Linked DNA regions of Homo sapiens. The protein of the gene in region 1 purifies or fractionates together with the protein of each later gene. This does not show direct contact. Each region holds a gene or a part of one and is shown in the gene's direction. Other genes may lie near its edges. The genes, in order: SLC25A18, FAM83B and KIAA1671.

The links.
Region 2: the proteins of SLC25A18 (region 1) and FAM83B purify together in Homo sapiens (affinity purification with mass spectrometry; one large-scale study listed by BioGRID and IntAct). This does not show direct contact.
Region 3: the proteins of SLC25A18 (region 1) and KIAA1671 purify together in Homo sapiens (affinity purification with mass spectrometry; one large-scale study listed by BioGRID and IntAct). This does not show direct contact.

Annotation. Positions count from the first base shown.
Region 1 is NC_000022.11:17,562,184-17,566,373, forward strand, and holds the start of SLC25A18 (mitochondrial glutamate carrier 2), read left to right. Parts: upstream 1-1,314; 5' UTR 1,315-1,530; exon of another isoform or gene 1,531-1,930; intron 1,931-2,085; exon of another isoform or gene 2,086-2,320; intron 2,321-4,190. UniProt on the Homo sapiens protein: Responsible for the transport of glutamate from the cytosol into the mitochondrial matrix with the concomitant import of a proton (symport system).
Region 2 is NC_000006.12:54,940,690-54,943,255, forward strand, and holds part of FAM83B (protein FAM83B), read left to right. Parts: coding exon 1-1,318; 3' UTR 1,319-2,566. UniProt on the Homo sapiens protein: Probable proto-oncogene that functions in the epidermal growth factor receptor/EGFR signaling pathway. Activates both the EGFR itself and downstream RAS/MAPK and PI3K/AKT/TOR signaling cascades.
Region 3 is NC_000022.11:25,025,675-25,029,326, forward strand, and holds part of KIAA1671 (uncharacterized protein KIAA1671), read left to right. Parts: 5' UTR 1-110; intron 111-2,270; 5' UTR 2,271-2,325; coding exon 2,326-3,652.

The DNA of each region.
Region 1 (4,190 bases):
GACAGGGTTTCACTCTGTTGCCCAGGCTAGGTACAGTGGCATGGTCTCAGCTCACTGCAGCCTCAATCTCCCGGGCTCAAGCAGTCCTCTCACCACAGCCTCCCAAGCAGCTGGGACTACAGGGGCACCCCACCACACCCAGCTAATTTTTTGTCTCACGATGTTGCCCAGGCTGGTCTAGAACTGAGCTCAAGTGATCTGTCTGCCTCAGCCTCCCGAAGTGCTAGGAATTACAGGCGTGAGCCACTGTGCCCGGCCTTTATTTTTTATAAGGAACTTAGCCATTTAGAGTGCTTCCAGATTTATCTTCTTCGGGCCAAAACCAGCAACAAATATATGTACCAAAAGTTAGCATCTTCCACTGGTTAACTGTTTCAAAACAGTGCAGTAGGCAGTGTAAATGTGGCTCTATTTTTGGAACTGTTACTGTTTAACGCTTGTTAAGCATCCTGGGTAAATATATCTTACACAGATAATCCTACACAGTGAGCTTCTTAAAATAAGAGCATAAAAGCTACTCGGGCAAGATTTAGGGAGACAGGAAGCTATACATTGTTACTGTAGATTAGTCTCAAAAGTTCTGATCAACTTTCTATTTTGACATTTGGAGACATCCATAGGTGCTTCTCTTGTTAAAGATTAATGTCTCTTGTCTCTAAACCAATTCGTGTTACTGGAAGGAAAGGCAACGCAAGTTTTATAAATCAGCCCCTTTGTGGGCTCCATTTTGCTATACTCTATGTTCTCTGAGAGTGCTACCAACGGAATTGAGAAAATAACCATCCAGACGGGCTATTTGGGGGCTGATCTTTACCCTGGAATCTTCCTGGAAGGTGAACGGCCTATGTCATGCAGTTGTTATGCAAGAGGTATCATGGGACCTTTCCTTCTGGGCGCTCATGGAGCCGCGGCAGAGCCCTGGGTGACCCAGCAGCAGCTGCCTGCTGTGTGGCTGCCTTCACTGTCCTCCCCCACAACTGCTGTTGATTTCTCTGCATTGACCCTGCAGATGTTTCCCTGGCCTCGTGGTGTTCCTTTGGACTTTTAAGGGACCTCTGTGCATCTATTTTAGTCCCCTTTCTGCTAGCAATGCTCACTCCCCTAGTTTCCTTAAGCAGTTTTATAAAAAACCTTCAGTGAAAAATACTAGCCAAGAAGGCGAAGGCATCTGGAAAATCCCCAGATTTGGCTATTGTGTGCTGCAATGCCAGCCCCCTTCTACAGCCATGACATGCATATCAATGCAGGTGCCCTTGAGACTCCTGCAGGTTCGAGAAAGCATGACATGCTCCCAGAATCCTGGATTTGGACTTCATTCTGGACAGCATATGACAAGGACGAGGACCCCTATTCTAGCCAGTTAAAGCTGGACAGAATTTTTAAAAGCAATGAAGCCAGTTCCTTGGATATATCCACGGGCTTTGCTTTGAGAAGGAACTGAGTAGGCAGTGAGAAGAGTCGAGTGAAGCCTGGCCCGTGAGTGCCTCAACAACTGAGATGAACGTCGACTCGCTTGCAGGCAAGTTGTCAGTAAGTATTTATTAAATACCCACCGTGAGCCTTGTACTTTGCCTAGTTACTAAGAAACCAAAAGGGGGAAAAATAGCCTCATCTGCTCAGAGTTCATAATAAACCTGTATTGTGAATACAGAATACAGAAAAACTGGACTCTAGTGAGGTGCTAGAAAGAGTGTACTGCTTAGCTGAGATAGCAGATGAAGGAAAAATATTTTTGGTTCCTCCCTGCCATGCAATCGTACCGGGAGGGTGGAGTGTTGGTGTTCTCAGCCCATTTAATTTGGATGGAGCTGCGGGCTCATCAGTTTGGGGACTGGCTTCATCGCTTGTTCTGTCCAGCAGTCGCGTCTTCTCGGACTCCTTGTTCCAGCTTGAATTCCTCTTTTGCCCTGGCTCCACTCTAAGACGAAGACTGTGTAATTCAGAAAATGCAGCGCAAGTAATTATGTCCAGTGTGATGCTAAACATTTCCCAAAGGCAGCGTAGATCTGCAGAAACTGCAGCTTGGGAGAAGTGATGGTGTTCCTCTCCCCACCACCTCAGCCTGCCCTGATCATTCTCACTCACATGATCTATTGTGATGTTCTCACAATGTAGCCTGGCCATCATCTGGGAACTTGCTGGAAATGCAGATTTTGGCATCCCGCCTAAGACCTTAAACTGAAGAAGGGCCTAGCTCTCTCTTGTAACTAGCAACAGATGCAACCTGCATGGTTCTGATGCAAACTGACCTGGAAGAATGGCCCTGGCATTTACATTTTGGTCCTTAGATGCAGGTAATCTGAGCTGAACATCTTCAAACCTGAGGCATAGCATAGAAAAAAGAATACAAACAGTTTATATAAAGTAAAAAAAATTTTTAGAAAGGACTTAAGTTGGCTGGGGCGCGGTGGCTCACACCTGTAATCCCAGCACTTTGGGAGGCCAAGGCGGGCGGATCACGAGGTCAAGAGATGGAGACCATCCTGGCTAACGTGAAACCCCATCTATACTAAAAATACAAAAAATTAGCCAGGCGTGGTAGCAGGTGTGGTAGTCCCAGCTACTCGGGAGGCTGAGGCAGGAAACTCACTTGAACCTGGGAGATGGACGTTGTAGTGAGCCAAGATTGAGCCAGTGCACTCCAGCCTGGGGGACAGAGCAAGACTCTGTCTCCAAAAAAAAAAAATCAGGCCCAGGCAACATAATGAGGCCCCACCTCTACAAAAAAATAATTGTTTTAATTAGCCAGGTTGATGGTGTGCACCTGTGATCCCAGCTACTCAGGAGGGTGAGGTGGGTGGATCGCTTGAGCCCAGGAGCCCTCCCTCGGGATGCTCTTATTTCTGCCTGCAGCCTCATTTGTCACTCTGTGCAGACTCATTCTGTTTTTGTTTTGTTTTGTTTTGTTTTGTTTTTGAGACAGTCTTGCTCTGTCACCCAGGCTGGAGTACAGTGGCACAATCTCGGTTCACTGTAAACTCCGCCCCCCCGGGTTCACGCCATTCTCCTGCCTCAGCCTCCCGAGTAGCTGGGACTACAGGTGCCTGCCACTATACCCAGCTAATTTTTTGTATTTTTTAGTAGAGACGGGGTTTTGCCATGTTGGCCAGGATGGTCTCGATCTCCTGACCTCGTGATCCACCCACCTCGGGCTCCCAAAGTGCTGGGATTACAGGCGTGAGCCACCACGCCCTGCCAAATTTTCTATTTTTTAATAGAGATAGGGTCTTGCCAAGTTGAAGTGCAGTGGTATGATCATAGCTCACTGCAGCCTCCAACCCCAGGGCTCAAATGATCCTCCTTCCTCGACCTCCCAAGTAGCTAGAACTACAGACACACACCGCAGCGCCTGGCTAATTTTTTGTTTGGGGTTTTTTTGAGTAATTTTTTAAAAAAATTTTTGGACAGGTGTGTTGGCTCACGCCTGTAATACCAGCACTTTGGGAGGCCGAGGCAGGCAGATCACCTGAGGTGGGGAGTTCAAGACCAGCCTGACAAACATGGAGAAACCCCGTCTCTACTAAAAACACAAAATTAGCCGGGCATGATGGGGCATGCCTGTAATCCCAGCTTCTCCGGAGGCTGAGGCAGGAGAATCACTTGAACCCAGGAGGTAGAGGTTTCAGTGAGCCGAGATCGTGCCATTGCACTCCAGCCTGGGCAACAAGAGTGAAGCTCCGTCTCAAAAAATAAAGAGATGGGGTCTTGGATGTTTCCCAGGCTGGTCTCAAACTCCCAGGCTCTAGTGATCCTCCCACCTCAGCCTCCCAAAGCACAAGGATTACAGGCGTGAGCCACCGCACCTGGCCTCTGTGTTTACTTTTTTGAGGACCTGCCATACTGTCTTCCACCATGGCTGCCGTGTTTTACATTCTCACCAGCAAGGGTTCCAATTCTCTACATCCGCACCAATGCCGATCTCTATTTTTTTGAACCATGCTTGTGGGTGTGACACGGCACTGCACCGCTGTTTCTGGTGCCTGCTGTCACCCCCTCATCTGCAACTGCTACTTTAAGCTCATGTCAGCTGCCAAACTTCTCTTCCCTCCCCGTCTCCTTACCTACCCCCTGCTTCTAACACTCTCAGTGGGGGGATAATGTATCTTCCTCCTGCTGATGCGTGTTTCAAATCTGATACCTGCCTCTGGCGTGTTTAATCACCCACCAAGCCCTGTATAATCTTCACAGAA
Region 2 (2,566 bases), on another chromosome or scaffold:
AAGTGAGACACCTAAAGAGGTCCCAGACACCCCTACGAATGTACAGCATTTGACAGACAAACCCTTGCCAGAATCAATCCCCAAGCTCCCATTGCAGTCAGAGGCACCAAAAATGCACACCTTGCAGGTTCCTGAAAACCACTCAGTAGCCTTAAACCAAACTACAAATGGCCATACTGAATCAAATAACTATATATATAAAACCTTGGGTGTAAATAAGCAGACAGAAAATCTAAAGAATCAACAGACTGAGAATCTACTTAAAAGGCGAAGTTTCCCGTTATTTGACAACTCAAAAGCCAACTTAGATCCTGGAAATAGTAAGCATTATGTATATAGTACACTTACCAGGAATCGAGTTAGACAACCAGAAAAGCCCAAAGAAGATTTGCTGAAAAGTTCTAAAAGCATGCACAATGTGACTCATAACTTGGAGGAGGATGAGGAGGAAGTTACCAAGAGAAACTCTCCAAGTGGCACTACTACCAAATCAGTTTCCATTGCTGCTTTACTTGATGTGAATAAAGAGGAATCTAACAAAGAACTTGCTTCAAAGAAGGAAGTTAAGGGTTCCCCAAGTTTTTTGAAAAAGGGGTCTCAGAAGTTAAGGTCATTACTTAGCCTTACCCCAGATAAGAAAGAAAATCTATCCAAAAATAAAGCACCTGCCTTTTATAGATTGTGTAGTAGCTCTGACACATTAGTTTCTGAGGGTGAAGAAAATCAAAAACCAAAGAAATCAGACACAAAAGTTGATTCATCTCCTAGAAGAAAGCATTCTTCCTCATCGAATTCTCAAGGCAGCATCCACAAGAGTAAGGAAGATGTAACAGTTAGCCCATCTCAAGAGATAAATGCTCCACCAGATGAAAATAAAAGAACACCTTCTCCAGGTCCAGTTGAAAGCAAGTTCTTGGAAAGGGCAGGAGATGCCTCTGCCCCAAGATTTAACACTGAACAGATCCAATACCGAGATTCAAGGGAGATTAATGCAGTTGTTACCCCTGAAAGAAGACCTACTTCTTCTCCAAGGCCAACGTCCAGTGAGCTTCTACGATCTCATTCAACTGATCGGCGTGTTTACAGTCGTTTTGAGCCGTTTTGTAAGATTGAGAGCTCTATTCAGCCAACAAGCAACATGCCAAATACCAGTATAAATCGCCCAGAAATAAAATCTGCGACTATGGGCAACAGTTATGGCAGGTCTAGTCCATTGCTTAATTACAACACTGGTGTTTATCGCTCATATCAACCCAATGAGAACAAGTTTCGAGGATTTATGCAAAAGTTTGGAAACTTTATACACAAAAATAAATAGCTATTAAAATGCAAAATGAATGAGGCTATCAATATTTGTCCAAAGAAAATTGTGGACAGTCTTTGTAACATGCCAATAGATTTTCCTAAGGACAGAATTATGGGTATGATGTATATGTTCACCAGTGTCCTAGTATAAAGTTATTTTTCTGTGTGATAAAGTTAGGGTCTGCTGTAGATAGAATTTCTCTGTAAACACATTATTTGTAAGTGGTAATGGTAAAAATAATAGATGTATTTAAATCATTTTCTTTAGACTGAAGATTTTAAGTCTCACTTAGAAATTTTTGTGGACGATGTATGGTGTATGGTGTATGGTGTATGGATTTTAACCATTTCCTTTTAAAAAGGTCATACTACCCTCAGTAACCCTTTATAACATGTGTTTATAGTGTTTTCATATCTTCAAAAATATAAGCAAATGGGACAAAGCCCTTTTTTAAGATTAACTTGAAGTTCTACGGGATAACTTGTTATATTTTATTAATATTATTTTTTCTGTGGATCATTGTACAGCTGTTTGGGCAACAGCAGTACCTTTTACATTTTTTATTTTTTATTTTTTTTTCTGCCTGAAGTGTTTGCAAAGTATCAGCCTCATGTAGTATAATGACATTCGTAGGAATTTATTTTCCTCAGCCTTTGAAAACGGTCTGGGATGTGCTTCTTTCTACACTGGACCCAGGGAGCTGTCCCCCTCTTACCCATAGGCTGCTGATTTTTTATAGTCATTCCTTACTTCACATTTAGGACAAACCAGTAGGAATTTAGAAAATCTGAATGATTCCCCCTCCTTTTTCTATTGTATAAAAGCTTTTAGAAATGTAAATTTCTGCCTAAATTTTTGTTAGATTGGCATGACAATGCTAAGGGGTCTTGCTTGCGAAAATTCTTGCTCTTTTTTTTTTTCTTTTGAGATGGAGTCTCGCTCTGTCACCCAGGCTAGAGTGCAGTGGCGCAATCTTGGCTCACTGCAACCTCTGCCTCCCAAGTTCAAACGATTCTCCTGCCTCAGCCTCCTGAGTAGCTGGGATTACAGGTGCGCACCACCACACCCGGCTAATTTTTGTATTTTCAGAAGAGATGGGATTTCACCATGTTGGCCAGTCTAGTCTCAAACTCCTGACCTCGTGATCCTCCCGCCTCGGCCTCCCAGAGTGCTGGGATTACAGGTCTTGCTCTTCTTTAAGTTGTGCCAAATATGATATGACTGCATAGTGTTTTTGTAAGAATACCATTGGGAAAATGA
Region 3 (3,652 bases), 7.5 Mb from region 1:
CTTCTTGTTTCTGCCATGGAAGTGTGTGGACAGCCCCATTCATGATGACATGTGACACTACTGGCTTTTCCCGGCAGTCACACCCCCTGACCCAGGGCCTGCCAGCTTGGGTAAGTGGGGCCCATGCTTGACCCAAGCTTGAGGGCTGGAGTGTCCAAGGGCATGGAGAGTGCCTGTGAGTTCTGCCAGAGAATTTTCTCTCTGTCCTTTGAATCCTGTCATTGTTCTGTGTCTCATGTCCTGGCTATTACATATGTATCCTCAATCAGGGTTTCCAGAGGTCACAGCTGCTCTCCCAAAAGGCCAATGGCCCTGATTCTGGGTGGGATTCTGGAGCCTTAGAACTCTGGTTGGGATCTTTGTGTATGGAAATTCTCCAATTCTCAGATTCTTCATATCTGTCCCTCCATTCTACCTCTAACCGTGTCTAGACAGTGTTCTCCAGTTTGGGGAGATGGAATCTGTTAGCACCATCGAGCGTGTAAGGAAGAGAAAATATCAAAATCTGTCTGCCTTTCTTTCCTGGAGGCTGCTGAGTGAGTCAGAGCCGGGGGAGCAGTGTGGGGCCCCAAGGAAGGGAAGTGGAGAGGCTTGTGTTTAACTAAAATACCTTCTACTTTTTTAGTCCATCTAGGTGGGGGCTGGCTGGGGGCAGTTTCACAGGGAAGAAAACACTGGCATGAAGAGAGCCTGGGGGATCGAGAACAGCAACTTACCTGGCACTTTTTAAGACCAGAAAGGAATAAAAAATAATTTTTAAAAAGACAGAGCTGAGGCTGGGTGTGGTGGCTCAAGCCTGTAATCTCAGCACTTTGGGAGGCTGAGGTGGGCGGATCCCCTGAGGTCAGGAGTTCGAGACCAGCCTGGCCAACATGGAGAAACCCCACCTCTACTAAAACCACAAAATTACCTGGGCGTGGTGGCACATGCCTGTAATCCCAGCTACTCCGGAAGCTGAGGCAGGAGAATGGCTTGAACCTGGGAGGCAGAAGTTGCTGTGAGCCAAGGTCGCGCCATTGCACTCCAGCCTGGGCAGCAAGAGTGAAACTTGGTCTCAAAAAAAAAAAAAGACAGAGCTAAGTGGGTGGTGGACTTGAGGTTAGGTTTCAGCTGGGTGATCGTAGGCAAGTCTGGCGACCTCTCTGGGCCCTTTCCCTTCATCTCCATGAGGGAGATAACGATCATTCCTTCATTCTTGACTTTTGGAGTTGCTGGAGGGTTAATGAGAGAGGAGGTCCCCTGCTTTGCGAAAACAGATCTCATAGCAGGGTGAACAAGAGGCTTATGCCCCAAGCTACTACAAAATGGGGTCTCCTAATTGTACCCACTAAATAGGGTTGTGAGGAGGATGAGATGTATAAAACACAAGAAGCATGTGGCATAGCTCGAGATCTCACTCATGGGAAGACCTCACTGTTGGGCGTTTCTCTTTCTATTAAGAGTATGAAGGCAGTCAGCATAATATGCGTGTTCAACAGAAAAGAACCACAAAGCAAACAAATAATGAAAGCAGGTTGAGTGAGAAAAATGAGAATGGCTTCTTTTTATGGCATCTGGAAGGGTGGGGGAGGGGAAAGAAAAGGGACAAAGGGATGATTGGGTGGGGTTGGTGCCTAGGGCATGGGTTCCAAGGTCACTAACCAGCTTTGTGCTCCCAGGCACTCCTGAGCTGCATTGCTGTGTGACCTGCAGCAGGTTACTTGCCTTCTCTGTGCTAGATGCTTAGCACACACTTGTGATTAGGATCACCTGGGATGTGGGCAGGCTCTGCAGTGGGAAAACAGGGTAACAGGAGTGAGGGAATGTGAGGACGCTCCCACTGAGGCCTATTCAGGGAGGAGCATGTGTGGTGTGAATTTGGTGTCAAACCTGGTTTTAAGTCCTGACTTCGCCTCTTGCTTCCTGGGTGACTCCAGTTACTTGGCCTCTCTGAGCTGGTTTCCTTATCTGTGTAGCAGAGATCACTGCTTTTTGCCATTAAGTGCTGGCCTCTAGATTAGCTGTCAGGGGAAAGTCCTCCAGAGTGTTGATGCCTTTTCTACACCCTTGGAGCTGGAACGAACTTCAGGGATGGGCGTTTAGTCCACTCCCCTCGTCCAGAGCTCAGAGACGGGGAGAGGCAGGCCCAAGCCTGCCGGGTGAGGTCAGCAGAGGGCTGTCGTATGGAATCTGGGGCTCAGGACTCTGTCCCATTTCTCTAAACCATTCTGCTTCAACCCAGACACTGACTGTTTTCCAAATTTACTTGTTTGTTTGTTTTGTTTGTTTAGCAATTGCTTCTCCATTCTTGAAGTTCCTAACCCCCATGAATCCACAACCATAACCATGGCCACGCGGGTCGAGGTGGGCTCCATAACGCCCTTGACGGCCGTGCCAGGCCTGGGTGAGATGGGCAAGGAGGAGACCCTGACGAGGACCTACTTCCTCCAGGCCGGCGAAGCCTCTGGGGCTCCCCCAGCCCGGATCTTGGAAGCGAAGAGCCCCCTGCGGAGCCCGGCCCGGTTACTCCCTCTGCCAAGGCTCGCCCCCAAACCCTTCTCGAAGGAGCAGGACGTGAAATCTCCTGTCCCGTCTCTGCGGCCCAGTTCGACTGGACCTTCCCCCTCTGGGGGGCTCTCTGAGGAGCCAGCAGCAAAGGATCTGGACAACAGGATGCCCGGCTTGGTGGGGCAGGAGGTGGGCAGTGGGGAGGGCCCGAGGACGAGCTCGCCCCTCTTCAACAAGGCTGTGTTCCTGCGGCCCAGCTCCAGCACCATGATTCTCTTCGAAACCACCAAAAGCGGCCCCGCTCTGGGGAAGGCGGTTAGTGAGGGGGCGGAGGAGGCCAAGCTAGGTGTGTCCGGCTCCCGGCCTGAGGTGGCTGCCAAGCCCGCCCTGCCCACCCAGAAGCCTGCGGGGACCCTTCCCCGGTCAGCTCCCCTGTCTCAGGACACAAAACCACCTGTACCCCAAGAGGAGGCAGGCCAAGACCATCCTCCCTCAAAGGCCAGCAGTGTGGAGGACACGGCACGCCCCCTTGTGGAGCCCAGGCCTCGCCTGAAGAGAAGGCCCGTGTCTGCCATTTTCACGGAGTCCATTCAGCCTCAGAAGCCAGGCCCCGGCGCAGCGGCCACAGTGGGCAAAGTGCCACCCACCCCTCCCGAGAAGACGTGGGTGAGGAAGCCCAGGCCCTTGTCCATGGACCTCACGGCCCGGTTTGAGAACAAAGAGGCCTTGCTGAGGAAGGTGGCCGATGAAGGAAGTGGACCCACAGCAGGGGATATGGCTGGGCTAGAGAGGCCCAGAGCAGCGTCCAAGCTGGACAGGGACTGTTTGGTCAAGGCGGAGGCTCCTCTTCATGATCCTGATTTGGACTTCCTGGAGGTGGCCAAGAAAATCCGTGAACGGAAGGAGAAGATGCTTTCGAAGCCGGAGATGGGCAGCCCCAGAGCCCTGGTGGGGGGCTCATCTGGGGTCACCCCCAGCAATGACCAGAGTCCCTGGGAAGAAAAGGCCAAGCTGGACCCAGAGCCAGAGAAGGCTGCTGAGTCCCCCTCACCCAGGCTGGGAAGGGGCCTAGAACTTGCTGAGGTTAAGAGCAGAGTGGCGGATGGGGAGGCCGCGGCAGGGGGAGAGTGGGCCTCCAGGAGGAGTGTCAGGAAGTGCATCAGCC